Homo sapiens: one gene and its partners. The protein of the gene in region 5 purifies or fractionates together with the protein of the main gene of each other region. This does not show direct contact. Each region holds a gene or a part of one and is shown on either strand. Other genes may lie near its edges.

Region 1 (3,500 bases), on a different chromosome or scaffold from region 5:
AAAGCACAGGGAGTATGTCTCTTTTATTCTTCATCGAGTCATCATTACAGTGCCCAGCACACAGCAAGTATTCAAATGTTTGCTGAATAAATGAACACATGCCAAAGGTCTGAGAGTCCGTATCGCAGAACCTCAAGATAGAAAGAAACATTACAGGTCTTCTAATCCAATCATCTTATTCTGAAACAATGGAGGTCAAGGATGCCCTATGATTATTTCATTTACATACCATATGTTCTTTTTGTGGCACAATCAAGGTATAATTAGTAAACAGAAGGAGCCCTTAATGATGAACTGATCCAATCCCTTCCCTTCACAGACGCACAAAAGGGCTTCTATTTTTGGTAATCTTTCCATGGTTGTATTTAGTAGCAATGACTCAGAATCTTACAGAAAGAAAGTTAAACTGGCCCCCACAGGAGGATTTTAGAAAACAAAAGAAAATGAGCTCTAACAAATGTTGATGAAATAGTCCACTGAGTAGTTTCTGGGTTGTTGATACAGGCAGCACTAAGTGTTGTAGGGTCCCAATAAAGGTACATAATTAGGGAACCATTTCACCTCGGACCCCCAGTGGGGCTGTGGTTCTGCCAAAGTTAAGAGAACTGAACTTTCCATCTTTCCTTGAAAGAAAGGAGCGAATGAGAAAACTTGCAGCTGAAATAGAAAATGCTAGTTGTGGCAAACAGAGCAAGTGCGGGAGCTGAAAGGAGGAAGGGTGAGAGATCAAAGATTGAGAGGGAAAGAGAAGAGGGATATGAACACAGAGAGAGATTAAAAAATGGGGTGAGGCTAGAGGGAGGAAGGAGGGGAGGAGGGAAGGAGAGAGAAAGAAAGAAGGAACTACAGTGCGACCCAGAGAGAAAAAAATGGAGAGTAGAACAGAAAGTAGTATCCCCATATCAACCAGTAAAATAAAATAGGGAAATAATAAAAACTACATTAAGAAAAACTAAATTAATAAACGAAGCATGCAGTAAGCCGAGATCGCACCACTGGACTCCAGCCTGGGCAACAAAGCGAGACTCCGTTTCCAAAAAAATAAAAATAAAAATAAAGGAAGCATGTTTGGAGCACCTGCAAAAAGAAAACCTAAAGATAGCAGTAACAGTGCTGAAACAGGAAACAATCATCCCATAAGGAACAAGAACATTCTAGAATCTACAGAAAAGTAGAATGGAAAAAAAAAAAAAAAAAGAATCCAGGCAGTCCCTGGTGAGAGGGATATTCATATCAGAAAAAATGTTCTCATTTCTACATTTATGCTTTGCATATAAAATGTTCTTATTCTAGTGTACCAATCTCAACAAATCCTTAATCATCTTCCTAAAGCCCTGAGTTGAAAAACTTCCCTCTACGAATGTGTATGCATATATGTGTATGTGTGTTTGTGTACAGACACACTATTTAGAATATCTGTAACCTGTGTGACTACTATGCCAACTATTTCACCCTAAAAGGGCAAACTCCTAAATGTTATCTGAGTTTAACTTAATCTGAATATGCTACAAGGTCTCGGAGAATCCCTTAACACAAAACATTTCTTCTGAAATTTTGAGTTCTTTTAAGAAATATTCTGGTGTATTTTCTTTCTCCACATAACAATCTGAAGATACCATGTTAGTAATCCAGTCCTTTTGGGTTAACTCCTTGAAGATGTTTCTTGCTTTATTTAAGTCCAAATAAACAGGCATCATTTCTGTAGTTCTTCTGTAGAAGAAAGATAAATTAAGTATTTTGTTAGATTATCTCCCTAGATGCAAAGTTTCTTCTAGAGCTTGCCCCATTTCAACAAAATTACCTTTTTTCTCAAGTGTGTAACTATAATAAATTGTCTAAATCCAAATGCAATGTAGTAAACATGATTTTTTCTAAAATACCAAAAAATATCAAGGCTGCTTTAACTGTATATACCATAAGACTTTAACTCAGATGCTGTCTTATCTGTAATAGATTAAAAAAATTAATATTTCCCAGTTTAAAAAAAATAGCCACAGAGGGAGGCTGAGACAGGATAATCGCTTGAGCTTGAGAGATCAAGGCTGCAGTGAGTTGTGAACATGCCACTGTACTCCAGCCTGGGTGACAGAGCAAGATCCTGCCTCAGAAAAAGAAAGAAAGAAAAAAAGAAAAGAAAGAAGGAAGGGAAGGAGGGAGGGAGGGAGGGAGGAAAGAAGGGAGGGAAGAAGGGCGGGCCATAGAAAAAAGATAAAGGTTTTTCGAAGGAAGGAAGGAAGGAAGAAAGGACTGACCACAGGAAGGAAGGAAGGAAGACAGAAAAAAGATAAACATTTTTCCCATTTCTAAAAAATACATCCATTTCTTCCCGTTAAATGGACTGAAAAGTGGGAACCAAAAGAGAGGGCTTCTGACCAATAATTTCTTAGTACTTCAATATAAAGTTATTAATGAAATGTTTAAGTATCTTCTCATGGAAGACCTTCTAATGGAAGGTCATGCAGCCATTAAATTATGTTACCGGCTGGGTGCGGTAGCTCACACCTATAATCCCAACACCAGGAGGCTGAGGTGGGAGGACTGCTTGAGGCCAGGAGTTCAAGACCAGCCTGGGCAACATAGCAAAGCTGCTGTCTTTACAAAAGCTAAAAAATTAGCAGGAGGTGGTGGCACGTGCCTGTAGTCCCAGCTACGTGGAAGGCTAAGGTGGGAGTTTTGCTTGAGCCCAAGAGTTTGATGATGCTTGAGCCCAAGAACCAAGATGCTGTAACTCCAGCCTGGGTGATGGAGTGAGACCTTGTCTCAAAAAAAAAAAAATTACCAAAAAAGATAGAATAAAATGTAAAATGGGCAAATATTAGGTAGAAAACAATGTATAAACAATATGATCCAGCTGGGCATGGTGGCTTACACCTGAAATCCCAGCACTTGGGGAGGCCAAGGCTGGTAGATTGCCTGAGCTCAGGAGTTCGAGACCAGCCTGGCCAACATGGTAAAACTCTGGCTCTACAAAAAAATACAAAAATTAGCTGGGTGTAGTGCCATGTGTCTGAAGCCCCAGCTACTCAGGCTGAGGTGGGAGGACTGCTTGAGCCTAGGAGGCAGAGGTTACAATGAGCCAAGATCACAGAACTGCATTAAAGCATGGGCAACGACAGGGCAAGACCCTGTCTCAAAAAAAAAAAGAAAAAAACAAAGAACCAGTATGATCTCATTTTTTTTAAAAGAATACATTTGCATGAAAAAATATAATCATATACGTAAGTGCTAGCTATTACTCTTAAGTGATGGATTATGGAAGATTTTCACTTTCTTTTTATTGTGTGTATTTTTGACATTTTCTACAGCAAACATATATTTACTTTTGTTAAAAAAAATTTTTAAAAAGGGATGAACACACAGCTATTTTACTCTCCAATCATTTTTTTATCCTCTTTCACGGTACTCTTAATACAATTTAATACAATTAATTTATTACATATATTACCTTTTCCTTAAAAAACTTCCAGTTAGACAAGCAGGAGATGAAAATATCTCTTGGA
Region 2 (3,500 bases), about 64 Mb from region 5:
AGAGCATAGAAACAATTTTAGAAAATAAAATAGCGTGAGGCTGGGCGCAGTGGCTCACACCTGTAATCCCAGAACTTTGGGAGGCCGAGGTGGGTGGGTCACGAGGTCAGGAGATCAACACCATCCTGGGCAACATGGTGAAACCTCGTCTCTACTAAAAATACAAAAATTAGCTGGGCATGGTGGCACATGCCTGTAATCTCAGTTACTCAGGAGGCTGAGGCAGGAGAATCGCTTGAACCAGGGAGTCGGAGGTTGCAGTGAGCTGAGATTGCACCACTACACTCCAGCCTGGTGACAGAGCAAGACTCTGTCTCAAAATAATAATAATAATAATAATAATAATAATAATAATAATAATAAATAAAATAGTGTGTTTCATTTGACTTTCATAGCTGATATACTTGGTTTTCTTCGTTTAGCTTATCTTGTTCCTAGAGCTCTTCATCTAGTAAAATACAGTAGAGTAGTTGGGCATCTGGATAATGTGGCTTTATGAATCAATGCCCATTGTGGTTGCCTAAGCATATAAGCCCAGGAAGTTTGGTGAAGGTCCTATGTTTTGTAAACGTTTCCCTTGATTCCAATAGTGATAGACTGAGAAGTGTAAAGTCAAGTGAGACTGAGTGGCAGGAATGTGTTCTATGTTCTCCCTTTTAGACAATTAATAAAGTGATCTTCTGTTGATTTTGCCTTTTGACTAGTCACCTTCTAAGAACTCTGTGTTTTATAGAAATAGAAAATTTTAAACTCTGGATCTCTGGGAGTAAAACAACTATTTTTAAAGACAATGTGCAGTTTTCCTTTTATAAGATGTAAATTGTGTTTGAATCATTACCGGGCATCACTGTAACCAGCAATATCTCAGGATTAGAGAAAGGGAGATTCAGATGTTTAAAATTGGTTTAAAGAGGCAAAATGAATGGCTTGTAAGACATTGTCAGTGAAAAAATAACTGAAGTTGTTTTAACCGCCCTTGTTCTTGAAGTGAGCACCTCTTTCCAGTTTTCTAGATGAGTAGTGGTAATTTTCCATCTCAGAAATTTTATTTACCTACTTAATTTTCTTCCTTGATTAGTATGAATTGTCCAACATAAAGATGATGTGGCTGGTGTTACTATTCCTTTGCCTGCCTAGAATAGAAATGATGGGGCAGGGGCATGACCCATATCTCCATTGTTCATATTGTTAGGAAAATGGTGATTTGTTTTGTATACTCTCCCCATTAACAGGGGTAATGCAGCATGGCTTGTGGTGTGAATGCTTTGCTTATGTCTCATATTCTCTTACCTGAGAGATGGTGGTGAACAGTGAACTTCTGCAATTGACATAGGTGACACATTCAAATGACAGCATGATATGCCCTCATTTATGATTTTCAGTAGACACAGTGTATTATAAAAATTTTCAAAGTTGCATTGTCTGTGGATCATACATGACTTTTTGTTTTTATGCCTTTGTTTTTTAGTTCAAGCTCTCATTATCCTGGATTTTGATCATATATGTTTATAAAGCAGGATTGTTTTATTGCTTTCCTACTCAATAAAAATGTGAAGCCATCCTTTTGGTATGCATGTTTTCCTCCGAATAGAAAGATTCCTTTGAAGATTTCCCATACTTTTTCATAGTCATTTTAGAGGATTTGAAGGTATTTTAGATTAAGGGAAGGACTATGATAAAACCTATTATTATATATGACTTTATTATTTTTAGGAACATTCTCTACTTTTCAAAAATATCGGACAAATAAAATGATAAGATTTCAGTAATAAAAATGGTGGCATTGTTTTCCCTGATGTGTTTCTAAAGTAGATCATCTTATTGCTGCCTCAGTCTTTTGGTATTTGCTTATTTATGTGCAAGGTCTCCAGTGGGCTTGCTGATGCTTCTAGAGCCTGGCTGCTGGCTTAATATTCCTGCACTCACCAGGTTGCTTCCCAGCATAAGGCATCCTCGCCATTCATTTTTTAATTTATATGACACTGTGCTTTGGTCACCAAGACCTGAGCTGCCTCCTAGTTTTTCTAGCCAGCTTTCTTTTTTTCTTAGGACAAAGGGTCTTCTTTCTGAAGTCGGGCCTAGACAGATCAAGGTAGTTGATCTTATTTCACTGGTTCAGGTGATAAACTAGCAGAGTAGAAGCATGGCATGGATGGAAACATATATTATCTAGAAAAGGCAGTGGCTGAAGTTCTACTGATGTGCCTGAATCGTTATTTTAAAATGTCTTTCTTCTTTGTTCAAGGAATTGAAATAAACATCATTATTTTTAAGTGCATCATTATAAATTTTTGTTGTTGTATTAAAAGGGACTTAAGAAAGTGATCATTATGTGTGACATTGCCTCACTATTCTGAGTGTTAGAATGTTCAGAATAAATTCAAGACACATTTTGTAATATATAGACTGTTTGCTTGTTTTTCATGTCTGCATAGAAGGCCTTCCTACTGAAGAAATAAAAAATGTTCTGGAGAAGGTTTCATCAGAATGGAAGAATGTATCTCAACATTTGGAAGATCTAGAAAGAAAGATTCAGCTACAGGAAGATATAAATGCTTATTTCAAGCAGCTTGATGAGCTTGAAAAGGTCATCAAGACAAAGGAGGAGTGGGTAAAACACACTTCCATTTCTGAATCTTCCCGGCAGTCCTTGCCAAGCTTGAAGGATTCCTGTCAGGTAAGGAGCCAACGGTCTGGAAAGTGGAGGAATTCTATGTGCAGTTCCAGAGTTAAGGAGGGCTTCTCGTATCATGAACTTTAAGTTAATGCTGCCCTGATTAACTTCCTGTGAGGATGTTCATCTTCAGTGAGTTGTGTGACCGTATTTTCTCTTCCTTAGCGGGAATTGACAAATCTTCTTGGCCTTCACCCCAAAATTGAAATGGCTCGTGCAAGCTGCTCGGCCCTGATGTCTCAGCCTTCTGCCCCAGATTTTGTCCAGCGGGGCTTCGATAGCTTTCTGGGCCGCTACCAAGCTGTACAAGAGGCTGTAGAGGATCGTCAACAACATCTAGAGAATGGTAAACCCAACAATTTTAAAATCTCCTGTCTCAGTTTGCCTTAATGTAAACATGACTCCCAACATTTAGAACTTGAGTACACTTGCTTGCTTTGCACCAACCTTCTCCATTTTCCTTTGTGCCTGTATTGTTCAAAGTCTTAAAGTCTTCTGTATTCAGATTCTTTTCCAGATTCACACCTTTTTGTAAACATACAAGCAAGTTTCACATTCTCTAAAATTGTGTCAGTAGGATATAATAATAATTTTTTTTTTTGTAGCTACAGGATCTCACTCTGTCACCCAGGCTGGAGAGCAGTGGTGCAATCATAGCTGCAGTCTTGACCTCCTGGGTTTCAGTGGTCCTTCTGCCTCAGCCTACTGAGTAGCTGGGACTACAGGCATGCACCACCATGCCTGGCTGGTTTTTTATTTTTAGTAGAGCCAGGGTCTAGCTATGTTGCCCACGCTGGTCTAGAACTCCTGGGCTCAAGTGATCTTC
Region 3 (3,500 bases), on a different chromosome or scaffold from region 5:
CAGCACTGGCGAGGCCCCATACTGAGGAGGAGACACTGGCGATTAGGATGCTTGTCTCACCAAGAGGCCCAAGCTCTAACAATCTCAGCCCCTTTCCATGTCTGAGCCATTCCTAGGACCCTCTCCTATCTTCTCAGGTTTCTCTGCCCTTCTTTGTTGACGTCTTCCCCAGTCGCCAGTCATCCCCAGACACTACGCCCTGAACCCCACCTCTTTGATGATGGAGTAGCTGAGTAGGAAGCGGAAGGAGGGCAGCCGGGTGACAGGCAGTGCTTGGAGGCTGGGCATGCTTTCCCACGGCAGCTTCTGCAAGTCCTGGGCAAAAAGCACTAAGAGGTTACTGTCCCCAGCCAGGTATATGCAGAAGTCAGAAGGGGCATGGGGATGAGTTGGTATTCACTCCCCACTAGACACTGCCCCTCTGCCCCAGCTCCTTACCTTGTCTAGGACCAAGACAAGGTGGCTATTGCTTGGTACTGTCAGGCCCTGTAGACGTCCTACTGCCTCATTCAGGAGCTCCTGGGCTCGCTCTGGCTGGGTTGGGCACAGCCCGTAGGCCAGGGCCTGAATGTCCTGAGGGGTGAGGGCACCGGCACCACTGAGCATGATCTGCAGGGAAACAGTGGTGGTGAGCACCATCTTCATTCATGATAGCTGCTGGGAAAGGATTAAGTCCAGTTTCTTCCCTTTCCCTGTTTTCTTTTTTTTTTGACAGAGTCTTGCTCTGTCGCCCAGGCTGGAGTGCAGTGGCGCAATCTCAGCTCACTGCAACCTCCACCTCCCAGGTTCAAGCGATTCTCCTGCCTCAGCCTCCTGAGTAGCTCGGACTACAGGCATGTGCCACCAAGCCCAGCTAATTTTTGTATTTTTAGTAGAGATGGGGTTTCACCCTGTTGGCCAGGATGGTCTTCACCTCTTGACCTTGTGACCCACCTGCCTCGGCCTCCCAAAGTGCTGGGATTATAGGCGTAAGCCAAGGGGCCTATCCTTTTTTTTTTTTTTGAGATGGAGTCTCACTCTGTCACCCAGGCTGGAGTGCGGCGATCTCAGCTCACTGCAACCTCCGCCTCCCAGGTTCAAGCAATTCTCCTGCTACAGCCTCCCGAGAAGCTGGAATTACAGGTGCCTGCCACCATGCCCAGCTAATTTTTGTATTTTCGTAGAGACAGGGTTTCACCATGTTGGCCAGGCTGGTCTCGAGCTCCTGAGCTCAAGCAATCCATCTGCCTTGGCCTCCCAAAGTGCTGGGATTACAGGTGCAAGCCACTGGGCCTGGCCCCCTTCCCTGCTTTCCTCACTCACTTTCAGCAGAGTGCGGTCAGGATATTTCCAGCCACAGTCCTGTAGCAGCTCCTGTAGGCGGGAGGCCTCCTGGGCAGGGCCGGGCTCCTCACTGGACGGCAGCAGCAGCCCCTTCCAGCAGCCCAGCACAGACTTCTCTAGGGAAGCGATGAGAACCTGAATGCAGAGGGCAGACCCTTCAGTCAGAGAGGAAACCAAGCTTCTTTCTCACAGGCACTGACATTTTGGAGATGAGAAAATGCGTTTTCCAATGTGCATGTCTGTCTTACGTATCTTTCTGCTGGGAAGCTGATAGTTGGGTTTAAGTCGTTTTTTTTCTGCGTATCTTTAAATATCCATTCCCATATATTCTTCAAGTTCTGGGCTCTGAAGTTCTCCCCAGGTGACATATTTTTAAATTTAGGTCTACACTTCCAGAAGGGATTTGAAGTGGCTTTAGCACTGACCCAGGCCGTCTGGTAGAGAAGTCACTGGGACCCCCCGGGTCATTCCTAGAGCAGGCCTGACCCCACCCCAGAAGCACACACCTCCATCCTGTGGTCCAGTGCCAGCCGCCCTGTCCACCATTCTCGCTTGTCAGTACAGCTGCTGTTCTCTTTCTGTGCCTTCTGGATGGCATCAAACTCATTCAGGACTGAACGCAGATGAAGCTTTGGGAGATGGGGCTGTGAGAGCTCTGCTTGTCCACGTGATCACCATCTCTCCCTCCCTCAACACAGAATGTGAGCAGCTTGACCCGAAGCCCAATCCAGCCCAACTTTGCTCCATGGCCCAGGAATCCTACCTTGTTCTGGCCAGTGGGAATCTGCACACTGACTGGGGGACTGTCCTTTTCCAGCCGGGTCAGCAGGAGGGTGTTGCCCACGGTTCCGGGCTGGAGGGTGGCCAGGGCCAACACACACACAGTCACCCCTGACACACAGGATACAGCCAGACTCATTCAGCTGTTAAAGGAATTCCCTTCCCTGTCTTGGGCACTCAATTCCTATCCATCACTCAAGCCAGCATCAAGAAGCCTTCCCTGGTCACTAGAGGTCAAGGTGCTCTCCCTTGCTCTAATAGCTCCCTGTGCACAGAGACCATGACTTGTACTTTGTGTCCCTCACAGCAACTAACAAAGTGAGGCACTCAAATCATGTGAATATGTTTCATGTTAGCACAGAAGACCCCAGTCATCTGAACTCACCTCTGAGGAAAGACACTGAATTTGCTGGTAATTCAAAGTTGAGGTTTAAAAAAAACAACAAACCTTCCTGATGTAAGATGCTAACAGGTGAAAAGGTATGACATAAGGGTCATAAATCTATGTAAACTAACCAATGCCTAAAACTCCTTCACCCAGCTCCCAAGTAAGAAGATGCAGAAGAGGACAGAGGAGCCGGCCAGAAGGCTGCCCGCATACCACTGGGGATCAGAGCCAGGCGCTCCTGGAAACTCTCCTTTTCAGGCTGGGGGAAGTGGCCAGATTCCAAAGCCCTGAAGGAAAAGAGGCGCTGGATGCGGGCCAGGGGGACATCTCCAGGCATCTCCTGAAGGCTCAGCCCCTGCAGCTGGTCTGCTATTTCAAGTGATCCTCGGTGCTTCTGGGCCTTGCTGCAAGCAACACGGGGAGGGGTGAGGTCCCATTCCTTCAAAGTCTGGACCTTCTCTCTAGTCTGCCCCAGCAGGAGTCTTGGGGATGGTCAGCACCCACCTGAGCTGTCTGTGGAGGTGGGTGAGCAGCTGGTGGCGACAGGTGATGGAGACAGACTCGGTGACAAGGAAAGCAGTGGCATAAGGATCCCGGTGGCCCAGGCACAAGGCCAGGAAGCGGCAGAGGTGGGCATAGAGCCCACTAGGAGGACAGTGACTAATGCCCCGGAAAGCAACACTCAGGGAGTCACAGATGGAGTCCAGGGTAGAAAGACCTAGAAGAACGTCAGGACACTTGGTACAGCTGAATTCCTTATTTCATAGTTGATAGGAACTTTCCAAGAAGGAACAGTCCCTATCTCATCTCCCACATGGCAAACAGCAACTACCATTTATGAAGGGCAATGTGCCAAGTGGGGTGCCATGCAACTAACAGGCATCAACTTATTCCACCATGCTCCCTAAACCCCATTTTTACAGAAGGAATAGAAGCTTGGAGAGGTTAAGTGACCTGCACACAGCTCATAGACAGAGTGCTGGGGTTCAAACACAGGTTCAGAGGCTAC
Region 4 (3,500 bases), on a different chromosome or scaffold from region 5:
CAGTGGTGCGATCATAGCTCATTAAAAAAATTATTTATTTTTTATTTTTTGAGATAAGATCTTTGTCACCCGGGCTGAGTGCAGTGGTGTGATCATGGTTCACCGCAGCCTCCACATCCTGGGTTCAAGCGATCCACCTATCTTAGCCTCCCAAGTAGCTGGGACTACAGGCGTGTACTACCACGTGTAGCTAATTTTTAAGTTTTCTGTAGAGACGGTGTCTTCCTATGTTGCCCAGGCTAGTCTCAAACTTTTGGGGGCCTCAAGCGATCCTCAAAGTGCTGGGATTACAGGTGTGAGCCACCATGCCTGGCCTTCCTAGGGTATTGATTCAATTTTATTTTACAGATGGCTAAAGAAATTATAGTTTATGAGTTTTCATTACCAAACGTTTATTGAATTTCCATGTCCTTGGTAAAGGCAAAATTAGAATGATAGCATTCTCATTTTAAGAGTTTATTTTCTTTAACATTGGGTAACCTTAATCTCTCCATCCTGAGATGATTAATTTAAGCTTAAAATCTTGAAAACCATCTTGTCAGATGGAAAAGCTGTAGCATACCAATTCATTGACAGAGTTACATGGGACCTTTTATCTTTGGTATTCCCTCCACCAAAACTTCCCCACGAAAAAATTCCCATCAAAGTCTAGCCATGCATATGTTGGTATCCATAACACATTAAAATAGTACTGTCTTCTGCATGTTTTAAAATGTTATCAAATATCAAATGTTATCAAATGATACCATATGTATCATTTTGTGACTTAGTGATTTTGGTGAACATTGTTTTGTAGATATACCTGTTTTGATTCTAGATAATTTATTTTAATAGCTATATAGTATGCATATGCCACAGTTTATTGGTTTTGTTGATCAATTTGTTCTTTCTTGCTTTTTGCTATTGGGAATATTTGTGTGTATGCTCTAGAGTTTATCTAGGGCAGTGTTGCTAAAATTGCAGGACTTGTTAGTGATCTGGAAATTAGTGGGCTGAGATCAGCATTTTCTTTTAAAATGAAATTGAACAAGATAAAATAGGATAGAGTAGGGTAGAATAAAATAGCATAAAGTAGAAAAATGGAAAAGATATCAAGCATCTCATGTAGGAGGAGTAAGAATTATTTTGTGAAATTTCAGTTATATATACATATATAACTGAATATATATATATATATATATATATATATATATATATATATATATATCATGAATCCTTTGCTCACTTTTGAATTGTGTCGTTTGTTTTATTCTTACTGATTTGCAGGCATTCTTTATATATTTTGTGTATGGATCCTTTCCAAGCTGTCCATTATGCATGTTACAAATATCTTCCCCCATTCTGTGGCATATTTTTCCTTTTGTTCAAGTTTACTGCTCTTTTCTTTGTGTTTTATGCTTTCCTGTCTTATGTATGAAATCTTTAACTGCTCTGAGGTCATAAATATATTTCTATACTTCTAAAAGTTTGAAAGTTTTGCTTTTTTTTACATTTCCACATGGATTCTCTTTTATTTTCCATATGGAAATACTATAGATTAAATTCTCCTTAGTGTGCATTTTTTCATGTGTTTCAGTGTCCAAATTGTTGAAACCCTCTCCTGAAGCTTATAAAGTATGATATTCTAAAGTTACATTTTATAACTTTAGTATTTTTATAATAGAGCATCTCTGCTGCTGACTTTTTAATAGTAGATAGCACAGATACAATTTTTAAGCTGTATTTTTCTCAGATAAAGAATGGATTGTTAAATGTGCAAGACAGTATATTCTTTTCCTTCTGTTTTTCTCTAATAGAATTTATTTGTGTATTTATATTTCCAGTCACATTAACTTTGCTCTAGAAGACAACTTTACAAGGATCTAAAAGGAACAGGATTAAAGATGACTGAATACTGGGTTCCAGAAATTTAAAACAATCAGGTACAAAAGTTTTTGGAGGGAATGCTCCCAGCCAGTCAGTATAAAATAGAACTGTTGAGAATGTACACAAGAAAAACTTAAAGTATCTAGCCCTGAAATACAGTGGAGGGTCCCAAAACAAGGGCTTTGGAATAGTCCTGGTTCAAATACTGGCTCTGACACTGATTGGTTGGTGACTATTGGTCACGTTACTGAAATGTGTGAATAAAATGGAGGCAATGATTAACCTGTTTCATTTGGATATTATAAAGATTAAATAAGGTGAGGCACTTAGTGCCTGGCACAGAATAACTTTATTTTTACTGTTGTTATTGCTGTTGTTATTTAGAATACATTTTATCACATCATGGATATGGCTTTCTGTATGTATATTGTGAATTGTTATTTTAAGTATATATATCAACATATTGTTAATAGCCTGGTGAAATCACATGGATAACAGGGTAAGGTAATCTCCACGTGTAGTGCACAAACTATACATGCAAATTGGGGATGATAGTTTTCTTTATTATGTATGCATCACATTGAAATAATGTAAAAAAAAAAGCCAACCATCTCCCACAATGCTAAAAAATTCAAAACACTTTTTAATAGTATTATACAATAGTAATTAATCTTGATTTATTTTTAAATCTTGAAGGACTTTCTGATTGACAAATATGAAATTATGTTAATCTTACATTTCATTCAATTTGAATCCTGCATGTCATTTCTTTGAATGTGGTAATTTCCATGACATACATACAATTATGTCTTAACCTGATGTCAGATAAACAGAATGGCCTGTTTTCCTACCATTCTAATTTTAAAGAGTTTAATTTTACTTGAAATTGATAAAAGACACTGAAAAGAGGTTATTTCCTACTCAAAAGCCCAGGATCGGTTTTTCATGATTTTAGCACATTAGGAAGATTTCCCTTCTGCTAGGAACGAAAGGGGGCCTAGGGTAGTGCAGTGAGGGGCAGTCACATCTCTACTTGGTCCCTTCTTTTTTCTCTTCTCTCCCTCTTTCTTCTCCTCTCCTTTTATTTTTTATTCCAGTAAACTTGGGGCAAATATGGAAAAAGTGTTTCCTGATAGGGTGAGGCAGAAGGAGAGGGAACTTTGGTTACAGGCCAGTTCCAGTATACAAAAAGCTGGGTTCTAAGGATGCTTTGTATGAATACGTTGCGTTTTACTCTGAGCCATGGGCTGTGGGTTATAGCAATGAAGGAATCGTCTGCCCTTTTGAAGAACTTACCAATTAATAGAGAAGGTACATCATACAAGAATAACTGTCATATGAGGCAGAATTTGAAAAATGCCTTCAATGTAGTTAAAAACAAAACAAAAAGTGCTGTGGAAATACAGAGAAGAGGTCCCAGCCCATTTGGGTAATCAGGATCCACATTGATGTAAATCTCAGTGGCAGTCATGCTGGGTCTTAGAGAAAATTAGGATTTTAACAGATCTGCTAAGATGCCATAGATAATATGTAGTAAGTATTAATTAAAATGACAGAATATCTTTCCATATTGTCAATCAGATCGGTTTATAAATTTTTAAGTGAGAAACTTCTAAGTAATCTTCTAAAAAGCA
Region 5 (3,500 bases):
TTGTATTTATATGAACTTTTACAATTTTAAAAAGTATTATAAGGACTTTATGTACATTGATACTGACAGTACAAATGTTTGACTATATTTTGAAGGAAAAATGCAATTTGGCATTTGTTTTATGTCTTTTCTTGTGATATATTTTGTTCCCCTTATTTAGATAACTCGGGAACTGTTAACCAAATTATGATGATGGCAAACAACCCAGAGGACTGGTTGAGTTTGTTGCTCAAACTAGAGAAAAACAGTGTTCCGCTAAGTGATGCTCTTTTAAATAAATTGATTGGTCGTTACAGTCAAGCAATTGAAGCGCTTCCCCCAGATAAATATGGCCAAAATGAGAGTTTTGCTAGAATTCAAGTGAGATTTGCTGAATTAAAAGCGTAAGTATTAGCATTTTAACTATGTTCAACTATGTTACATAATATGTAACTACACTGCAAAGAGAGAAAATAAAAAACATGGCAGTATTGTGAGAAAATATTAATTTTTTTACCAAATACTTTTGCTTATAGTTAACAAGAGACTAATGTAAACTCTTTTCTATGCACGTTTCCACAACAGTTTACTTATTTTAAACTGCCTAAAAAGATTTTTTTAAAATAACTTATTAGTATTTAATTTTACCCACAGAAAAAAGCAATATCCCATGTTTTTTGGAAAATTGAATGAAGCATTATCAAATTTAAGTAGCTATGTTCTTTTTCTTAAATTTTGACTCAAATCTTTTATTACAGTATTCAAGAGCCAGATGATGCACGTGACTACTTTCAAATGGCCAGAGCAAACTGCAAGAAATTTGCTTTTGTTCATATATCTTTTGCACAATTTGAACTGTCACAAGGTAATCTGAAAATGTCAAATTCAAATTTTAAGTAAAGGATAACTTATTACAACTTACTTCCTAATATTAAATCATATATATGAAGTGGAAATTTGAGGCAAAAGACATTAAAGTTGATCAGATGAGAATATGGGGAGAAAATGCCACCTAAATGTAAATGCAGAGAATATCTGTTATACTAGCTTTTCCATGTATAAAGAGTAATCCAGGGAAATGAGCATGAACATTGTGTATGTGCTACTAGTTAGATTCAGGAAACATCTAAAGGAAAGTAGCTGCTTCACTGAGTATTTGTAGGAAGAAGGATATCAGATATTTAAGCTAGAGCTTTAAATATCTAGAGCTTACATAAACTTTTCTTATGCTATGGTTTCATAGCACCAAAATGTACATTAAAGTGTAGCTATGTAACTTGGTGGTCAAGTAAACTATATATCTGTGTGTGTGTGTGTGTGTGTGTGTGTGTGTGTGTGTGTAGCGTTAATTGGTAGTTCTTTAAAATAAAAAAGTAAACTGCTGTAGAAACTATTTCTTGCTCACTTGGTTCTTCATAGTCTGGATTTTTTTGGGTAGGACCAAGACAATCTCTTCCTAAGACATTTTTAACCTGGCCATTCCTTAGTCTTTTCTCATTTTCCAGGGCCTTTGGATACACCCTCAGTCTGCCCTCTGGCCAGGTGTTTCCATTCTCCCACTGCCTTGTTTCTGCTACAACTGTGATCCAATTTACTGCCAGTGATAAACATATTAACACTATTGGAAGAATCCCCATGATGGTTTCCATAGCAGGGATTGGTCACTGGAGAGTATTCCCCAGGATTGAGCCTGGAGAAAATAATTATATGACTCAGAAATAATTTGAGAACCCTGAATTGTTACCCATTCAGATGATTTCTGAGTCCTAGTAATTGTCTTCTCCAATATGTCCTTTGCTCTATCAGGTTACTTTTTAGAACTATTATCCCTTTCTTCTCTAGAAAAATGGATTCCTCCTTGCTTGTTAGAGAAAATTTGGCAAGGCTTCTTTCTCTCCATTCTGCTTGAAAATTTCTTGAGGTATTGTGGCCTCTCAATAACAACCATAAATTTTACATGTTTAGAACATGTAAATATTGAAACTCTTAAATTGAGTTATCTGTAAAAAAGACGAACTTTATCTATACCACTTTATCTGCAATGTGGTAGTAATGCACAGTGATGCAATGTGGTCAAATGCATTGCACAGTAATGCAGTGTGGTCAAATTATGATTATTTTGAGCACAGTTGATGGCTTGGCTGTCAGGAAATAATGCAGCATCCCTGAAGTCCTATGCAGAGTCTGGTGTGTGAGTATTTTTATAGGGATGGAGGACATTTCAGTTTTTACCAGATTCTTAAAGAAATCTCTGATCTCAATACTAAGCTATCTGATTAATTAAGCTTCTTAAGCCTTTCTCTCTTTTCTTGTGCTAAAATACACAATACATGAAATTCTACCACTACTTAGTAAATGTAGATGTAAGCACTATCAAAGATATTTTTAAAAATTTATAAACTACCAGAAGCTAGAGATCATCTCTTAAGCATTTTTATACGCTAAGTACCAAGTGCATAGCATAGCTCAATGGCTCCCATAAATGTTGATAATATTCTGTAAGATATGTGATGTATACATTTAATATTTATATGTCAAATGCTAGGGGTAAGTTTACCAATTTTTTTGGTAATCTGTCCATACTCAGAAAGGTAATTATGATAGTTCCTCAGTTATTCTGCATTCTTTTTCAGGCTGGTATAGCTGAGTGTGACAGCTAAAGATTAATCTGTATTTATTATGTTTTTCCCCGAAAATCCTTTTGATGGAAGATGCTCTTTAACAAAAGATGTCATCCTTCCCTTAACTAAATGTCATTATGAATGATACTTATTATAGCATGTTGTAAGAGACTGATGCTCTTGGCACTTTTGTAACATCTAGAATGCCCTCCTGTTTCTAACTGTTGTGATTGGCCTTTGCTGTCCCCTGTTGGTAACTGCTTTGTTACACTTCTGTTACTTCTGAAAGTGGACAGTGGTGATAAACTAATGCAAAATTACGTCAGCTACATATTGCAAGGAAACTATTTGGTATGCATTGTTATCAGAAGAGAGTTGGTTATCTGCATAAAAAGTGAGAGATTGCTTACTTGCCTATGAAATAAAATACATGAGCCTTGGAATAAATATTTTTGCTTAAGTCTTTTTGATTTTTTTTTCTAGGTCCTGATGAATACGTATCTGGGTGGTCTGGGTGGTGGGCATTTTACTGCCTAAAAATGACAATTATCTTTTGCTTTGTTAGGTAATGTCAAAAAAAGTAAACAACTTCTTCAAAAAGCTGTAGAACGTGGAGCAGTACCACTAGAAATGCTGGAAATTGCCCTGCGGAATTTAAACCTCCAAAAAAAGCAGCTGCTTTCAGAGGAGGAAAAGAAGAATTTATCAGGTAACTATTAAGGTATACTAATACTTTCTGTGGTAGGTAGTACTTCAAATAAAGATTCGGGATAATAATTTATAGAAAAATATTATTTATGTAGAATGGTTAAAATCTAAGATTAAATTGTAAAGGAGGTAAGACTGAGAAGTAAAAAAGTCTCTACAACCCCATGCAAATTTGTCTTTTTTGCTAACTAA
Region 6 (3,500 bases), on a different chromosome or scaffold from region 5:
CACACAGAAAAAAAATGATGAAAAATAAAAAACTAGGGTCTCAAAGCTTGAAGATATATCTTCCTTCTGATTGATAAAATACATGGTATGTTTTAAAAATTAAAAACGCAAGCTTTCTCAATTACTCCCAAAATAACACTGTATAATTCAATCTCTCACATGGCCAAACTAAATTATGAACATCCATGACTGTGATCTTAGTCATAACTCTTTATCTACAGCCTCTTGAGATTCAAGTACAATCTCAGCTAGGTAATCTCTGATTTTGATTATTAAACTCTACTACAAATGATCTACTACAATGTTCAAAGCTATCAACATAGCCTTGAACAAAACACACAAGGTTTTGCATGAGAAAAGTAGTATTAATAGTCTTGAATTCTGAAGGCCTGAGTTTTAATCCTGATTTCATCCCTGTGACTTTGGTGCTCTCATCCTAATATAATAAAGCAATGTGTTCTATCTCAGGTTCCTAATCTACTATTATTAATAAAACAAAACTAAACAAAACTAACAACTACTCGAATACTTTGTAACAACTACTTCCACAGTGTTTCCAAAGGCACAATAAGTGACCAGATTTTAAAGTTTCTAGTAAAGATTTCTCCTGCCAATTAAACCCCTTTGATAAGAACATTAAATATTATTTTACTTACAGATAAATGTTGTCAAAAGTACCATCTTTTTCACAGATGTTTAAGACATGATTTAACATTTTAGTTCCTGTTAATAAAATAAATAACAAACACGTGACTTCATAAATCAACCTTTAAATTATGTATCTATCCACTTGCCATCTGAACTACTTATTGAGTCCTAAAAGAATTTATGAGGTATACACTAGATATCCTTATTTTCCAAAGTTGTGTTCTCTCTCTACAATAGCTACGTATGTTTAAAACTGTTAGCAGAAGACTAACCTTTTTAAACAAGCACTTCCGGGTAGAAGAAAAACAGAAAAAGCAGAAGGGGACGTAAACAGCAAATCTATGTAGGGCTTCCAATAGAATTATGTTAATAAACACTAGTTATTTTTCACCATATTTTACATAATTCAGTAACCCTTTCTCAGTATTCCTTAAAAAGACCCAAATTAACTTACTAGGTCAGACACATTAACAAATAATATGTTTATGCTTCTCTGAAGAAGTAAAAAAACCACAATTTTTTACCTATTCCTAGCCTTCGGTAAGGTGCCAGACATCCTAGTGTCATGATGTAAAGTCTCTTCTGATTCTGTGAATGATCCACCCTACAGCATACTGCACCTACAGCAATATCATTGAAATAGGCTGCCAAGGAAAACATAAAGATATAATGTTGAACAGACAGAATAACACATTTAATCTTTTTCCCTTTTAAAGGACTACACTGTTCCTATCAACATTAAATTTCATCAACTATTTCATGAATATCAATGATCTCAAAGCTCTTATGCCATCTTAGGAAGTTTAAGCCTCCTCTAGAGTATAGCTTAAAGTGAAAACACACAGGTATACACTAAGAACACTAAGCATTTCTTTTTAAAATTCAACTGTTTTATTCAACTGATTTCTCTGAGATTTTTCTCACAACCTAGACCACTCCCATTTCCTCACTTATAAAATAAACAAACTAAATTAGTTAACTTCTTCTGCTCTATAAAAAACTAGGGTTCAAGAACAAAAAGAAAGAAAAGAAGGGAGGACAAAAAAAAAACTATATTATACCAAGTTTTGCTAGCTCGCCAACCTCCAGCACATCCTTGTAGAACTTGTCATTGTAGCTGACTGGAAAGATGACCTGATTCAATCTTTTCAACTGTTTAATATTGTGTGGTGTCACATCTCCCAGCTCGATCCGGCTACTGGAACAAATCAAAATGTACTCAATAAAACATAATTAGCCCCATTTGTTAATATGAACATATGAAAGGGGTACCAAGTCTTTTTTACATGATTGATAAATCCAACTCTTTCAGAGTTGATTTATAAGCAAATTATCATTTATAAGCAAATTTTGACAGTCATTCAATACAAATTCTACTCATAGCTTTCATATAATTACATACATTCAGGGACAAATATGGTACACAACGACTACTACAAAGGCCAGAATAACATTCTGCAAGTGTCAAAATTTTCCTTGTAGTTCATAGTTCAGAAAAATTTAGATACACCTATTTCTGGTAAAATTACAGTTCCTTTGCCCAAGTATCTTATTACTTCTAGTAATTTATTCTAAGAAAACAATGGAGGTATGCAATACCATGCACATTCTATTCATGAAAACCGTGGTCTATGAACTACCTACATCAGAGTCACAGAGGTGATATGCAAAATTCACATTCCTGGATACACATACCCCATTTTCAGAACCAGAGTTGCTGGAAACGAAACAAAGGAATCCACCATCTTGAAAATCACCCCAGGATGAAAACTATCCATTAAGAAAGCAACAGGAGTGATATGGTTTGGCTGTGTCCCCATCCAAATTTCATCTTGTAGTTCCCATAATTCCCATGTTGTGAGAGGGACCCGGCGAATCATGGGGGCGGTTGCCCTCATGCTGTTCTCGTGATAGTGAGTTCTCACAAGATCTGATGGTTTTATAAGGAGGCTTTCCTTCACTTCGCTCTCATTTCTCCTTCCTGCCACCATGTGAAGAATGATGTGTTTGCTTCCCCTTCCACCATGTTTATAGGTTTCCTGAGACCTCCCTATCCCTGCGCAACTGTGAGTCAATTAAACCTCTTTCCTTTATAAATTACCCAGTCTCGGGTATGTCTTTATTAGCAGCATGAGAAAGGACTAATAAAAGGAGCATTCCTAAGAAACCACTTGTAATCAAAACAATTGGGTCCATGGAAAAGATTAAAGCGAAAAATTTTCAGTTCCAATTTCTAACAAAGTATCAAAGGTATTCTGCCTGCAGAGCTGTAAACAAAGAATTTTTAATAGCTGAAGTGAACTTCAATACTGTTAAAGGTGGATCAAATGTGATAAGGCAAACCTGACAGCATTCTACAATTTTTTTGCTCCATCCGTATTATTTGCCCAAAAAGATGTTGTAGCATATTGTGTTTTGTAGAGAAAAAGCACATTTCAACTATATTTAACAACGGACTTTTGTTAACATATACAAAAACATGCTTGAAAGGATTTTAATTTGTAGTAGAAATTGTAATTTTAAAAACTGTATTTTGAAATGTTAAAATTTAGATTAAAATGCAAAAAAACAAAAACAGAAACAAAAAAAAACAGCTGGGCATGAAGGCCTGTAATCCCAGCACTTTGGGAGACCGGGGTGAGAGGATCCTTTGAGCCCTGGAGTTCAAGACCAACCTGGGCATATAGCAAAACTTTGTAAGAAATTTTTTTAAAAAAACTTAACCAGGTGTGGTGGCGTGCACCTATGGTCCCAGCTACTTAGAAGGCTGAAGTGAGAGGACTGCTTGAGCCTGGAAGGTCGAGGCTGCAGTAAGCTATGATTGTGTACCATTGCATTCCAGCCTGGGTGAC
Region 7 (3,500 bases), on a different chromosome or scaffold from region 5:
AAGAGACATTAGAATTTCACCATATTAAACTATCTCCCAAGAGTAATATGAGTGAGGGAAGTGTTCCTTTTAAAAGTCATGCTTCTAGGCTGAGCATGGTAGTTCATGCCTGTAATTCCAGCACTTTGGAGGCCAAAGCAGGAGAATTGCTTGAGCCTATGAGTTTGAGGTTATAGTGCACTATGATATCATTACCCACTACAATAAAACACGAAGTTCAGATGGTCATTCACTAGGGTGTGTGATATTTTGGAGTATAGACCTTAAGTGATTATGACATATCAAAATAATGTGGTCTTATGTTTCTTTTTTTTTTATTGCAGATTTCATTGAATATACTTCTATTAACAGCCTGCTATATATCAGGCATTCTGATAGGTGTTGGAGATACAAAAAATGAATAAAGCAAAAATAGTTCCTGCCCTCACAAACAAGTAAATAAGTGATTCATCTATAGTGTGATTAGTACTGATAGAAATATGCCATTTTGTGTGTACATTATTACTACCTTCCTTTTGAAGATTAGGCTTTTTTGTTAGACTCTTGAAGTTATGGACCTTTTGGATGGAAAATACATGTCATATATGCCATCTCTCCTCCTCTATGACCAATATCCGTGATCCCTCATAGCATTCCTGATGAATTTAGCCTCAGAGTTTTTTTTGAGAGGGAGTCTCGCTCTTGTTGCTCAGGCTGGAGTGCAGTGGCGTGATCTCGGCTCACTGCAACCTCTGCCTCTTGGGTTCAAGCGATTCTCCTGCCTCAGCCTCCTAAGTAGCTGGGATTATAGGCATGCGCCAACATGCCCGGCTAATTTTTTTGTATTTTTAGTAGAGATGGGGTTTCACCATGTTGGCCAGGCTGGTCTTGAACTCCTGAGCTCGTGGTCCACCCACCTCAGCCTCCCAAAATGCTGGGATTACAGGCTTGAGCCACTGCGCCCGGCCAGCCTCAGAGTTCTTAATACAGCATTATCAGCCCTAATAGCCCTAGTCTGCCAATTGAAATTGGCATTGTCATTATTAGCCTATTTCCTATACTCTAGTACCTATTTGAGTTATAAGTTTATAACTTTTAAATTGTTTTGGTATCAAAAGGAATTTTTTTTTAGGGTTTTGCTCTGTCACCCAGGCTGGAGTGCAGTGGCATGATCATAGCTCACTGCAGCCTCCAAGTCCTGGACTCAAGCAATCCTCTCACCTTAACTTCCCAAGTAGCTAGGACTACAGGTATGCACAACCATGCCTAGCTAATTTTTGTATTGTTTGTAGAGATGGGGTCTTGCTATGTTGACTAGGCTGGTCTTGAACTCCTGGCCTCAAGCAATTCTCCCTCTTTGGCCTCCCAAAGTACTGGGATTACAGGTGTGAGCCACCATACCTGGTCAAATTTATTCAATTTAAAGTTTTTGGCAGACCAGCACCTGACAGCAGGTTTCTCTCTAGATATCCTGGGTTTGGGTACTTGTAAATAGAGACTGGCTCGGTGTGGTGTCTCATGCCTGTAATCCCAGCACTTTGGGAGGCCTAGGCAGGAGGATTGCTTGAAGCCAGGAGTTGGATACCAGCCTGGGCAACATGATGAGGCTCTATTTCTACAAAAAATAAAATTAGCCAGGCCTGGTAGCATGTGACTGTAGCCCCAGCTACTCAGGAGGATGAAGTGGGAGGACTGGTTGAGCCCAGGAGTTGGAGGCTGCAGTGAGCTATGATCATGCCACTGCACTCCAGCCTGGGTGACAGAACAAGTCACTGTCTCAAAACAAACAAACAGAGACCAAGGAAGCAGAGCATGGGAAACAGCAGTGGATGCAGCTACTGGTGGTTATGTGTAATTTGGATATAAACTCCTTACACATTATGGCCCGGGAACTGTAAGAATCAGGTTCCTCCCTGGGCTATGTTTTATTTACTTTTGAAGACTTTTTCTCCAGGTTTTTGTAGGTTTTGGCATTAATTTTGACCACATTTTACCTAAAGGAAGGACAAGATCAGCAGGGAACAAACTTGTGGTAAAATTTGCTGAGTGTCTATACTGTGCTGAGAATGAACTGTTTTTTTTTTTTTTTTTTTTTTAAGATGGAGTCTCACTCTGTCACCCAGGCTGTAGTGCAGTGGCACGATCTTGGCTCGCTGCAACCTCCGCCTCCTGGGTTCAAGTGATTCTCCTGCCTCAGCCTCCCCAGTAGCTGAGATTATAGGCACGTGCCACCATCCCCAGCTAATTTTTGTATTTTTAGTAGAGACAGGGTTTCACCATGTTGGCCAGGCTGGTCTTAAACTCCTGACCTCAAGTGATCCACCTGCCTCAGCCTCCCAAAGTGTTGGGATTATAGGTGTGAGCCACTACACCCGGCCTTATGCCCGCATTTTGACCGCAACCCATCACAGGGTCGTGTGTGGAATTTTCCACTATGGTGTCATGTTGGTGCTCAAAAAGTTTCAGATTTTGGAGCATTTTGGATTAAAGAATGCTCAGCCTGTGGTGGTTTATAACTCTGGCTGCTCAATAGATCACCTGTGGGGCTGTGGAAAAAAACAGACCAAAAAAAAAAAAAAAAAAAAAAGCAACCCACCACAGCCAATATCTGGTTCCTTTGCCTAGAGATTCTGTCTGGTATGTAGTCTAGGTATCAGTATTTTACTTTAAGGCACCTAACATACTGATGAAGCTTAACTTGTCACACATTAGTGATTCCAGGGTATAGCCAGGGTTGTGATCCATTATTTTAGTAAAAGTAGTATCTCCTAACAGAGTATCTGACAAGACTTCTTGGAGAGTGAAGTTTAAATGGTGAGAGGAAGATGACCAGTCGGTTGCCCTGAGGGCAAGGAGGCATTCTAGCCATGTAGGCAGCATGGAAGAAGTCCCTGACTGGAAACAAAGCTGTCAGGTGAAGGGCATTTAAAACAGGCAGAGGGAGGATGATGAAGAAGATAAGGGAGGAGGGGTAATCTGGGGCACCTTATTAAAGACCTGGAAACAGAGGTAAGGTAAGGATCTTGGAATTAATTTCTAGGACACTTGGAAACTACTATAGGACTTAATCTCCTAAGAGCAGTAATAGGAGTTAGTGATTAGTGATAGATTAGAGGGAGCATAGTACTGAAAATGAGAGGTAGCATGGATAAGATTGCATCAGTCTAGGAGGGTGAGCAATGATTAAGGAACAGATGATATGCAGAACACACAGCAAGAAGAATTGATGTTATATTGCAATATATCCCTTGTGCTGAATAAAGGGCAGATGAGTTGAAAGGAAAGGACTTAACATTTGCAAAGTCTGAGTATAGCTTTTAAATCTCTTCAGTTTTATTTAATCAGGCTAACGCTGTTCAAGAATACAGTGTAGAGGACTGTAGAGCCTATCAAGGTAATATCAAAGAGAGCATCCAACTCAGGCTGCATATAGTTTTTGCCACTAATATCCTAAAAGTAATTGAGTTTAAGGTATAAATCACTTCCATTACATGTTTACCTGCAATGGGAATTTGCTTAAG

Evidence for each region.
Region 1: the proteins of TTK (region 5) and HERC5 purify together in Homo sapiens (affinity purification with mass spectrometry; one large-scale study listed by BioGRID and IntAct). This does not show direct contact.
Region 2: the proteins of TTK (region 5) and UTRN purify together in Homo sapiens (affinity purification with mass spectrometry; one large-scale study listed by BioGRID and IntAct). This does not show direct contact.
Region 3: the proteins of TTK (region 5) and ESPL1 purify together in Homo sapiens (affinity purification with mass spectrometry; one large-scale study listed by BioGRID and IntAct). This does not show direct contact.
Region 4: the proteins of TTK (region 5) and RCBTB2 purify together in Homo sapiens (affinity purification with mass spectrometry; one large-scale study listed by BioGRID and IntAct). This does not show direct contact.
Region 6: the proteins of TTK (region 5) and NAA50 purify together in Homo sapiens (affinity purification with mass spectrometry, with the first as the bait; one large-scale study listed by BioGRID). This does not show direct contact.
Region 7: the proteins of TTK (region 5) and KIF2A purify together in Homo sapiens (affinity purification with mass spectrometry; one large-scale study listed by BioGRID and IntAct). This does not show direct contact.

Annotation. Positions count from the first base shown.
Region 1 is NC_000004.12:88,470,619-88,474,118, reverse strand, and holds part of HERC5 (E3 ISG15--protein ligase HERC5), read right to left. Parts: coding exon 3,446-3,500; intron 1,711-3,445; coding exon 1,617-1,710; intron 1-1,616.
Region 2 is NC_000006.12:144,456,335-144,459,834, forward strand, and holds part of UTRN (utrophin), read left to right. Parts: intron 1-2,435; coding exon 2,436-2,677; intron 2,678-2,839; coding exon 2,840-3,020; intron 3,021-3,500.
Region 3 is NC_000012.12:53,288,799-53,292,298, reverse strand, and holds part of ESPL1 (separin), read right to left. Parts: intron 3,210-3,500; coding exon 2,996-3,209; intron 2,896-2,995; coding exon 2,705-2,895; intron 2,215-2,704; coding exon 2,087-2,214; intron 1,953-2,086; coding exon 1,830-1,952; intron 1,459-1,829; coding exon 1,303-1,458; intron 610-1,302; coding exon 439-609; intron 316-438; coding exon 211-315; intron 22-210; coding exon 1-21. UniProt on the Homo sapiens protein: Caspase-like protease, which plays a central role in the chromosome segregation by cleaving the SCC1/RAD21 subunit of the cohesin complex at the onset of anaphase. During most of the cell cycle, it is inactivated by different mechanisms.
Region 4 is NC_000013.11:48,523,081-48,526,580, reverse strand, and holds part of RCBTB2 (RCC1 and BTB domain-containing protein 2), read left to right. Parts: intron 1-1,823; 5' UTR 1,824-1,922; intron 1,923-3,500.
Region 5 is NC_000006.12:80,007,649-80,011,148, forward strand, and holds part of TTK (dual specificity protein kinase TTK), read left to right. Parts: intron 1-160; coding exon 161-383; intron 384-737; coding exon 738-844; intron 845-3,165; coding exon 3,166-3,309; intron 3,310-3,500.
Region 6 is NC_000003.12:113,722,250-113,725,749, forward strand, and holds part of NAA50 (N-alpha-acetyltransferase 50), read right to left. Parts: intron 1,847-3,500; coding exon 1,710-1,846; intron 1,293-1,709; coding exon 1,173-1,292; intron 724-1,172; coding exon 657-723; intron 1-656. UniProt on the Homo sapiens protein: N-alpha-acetyltransferase that acetylates the N-terminus of proteins that retain their initiating methionine. Has a broad substrate specificity: able to acetylate the initiator methionine of most peptides, except for those with a proline in second position.
Region 7 is NC_000005.10:62,312,706-62,316,205, forward strand, and holds part of KIF2A (kinesin-like protein KIF2A), read left to right. Parts: intron 1-3,500. UniProt on the Homo sapiens protein: Plus end-directed microtubule-dependent motor required for normal brain development. May regulate microtubule dynamics during axonal growth. Required for normal progression through mitosis. Required for normal congress of chromosomes at the metaphase plate.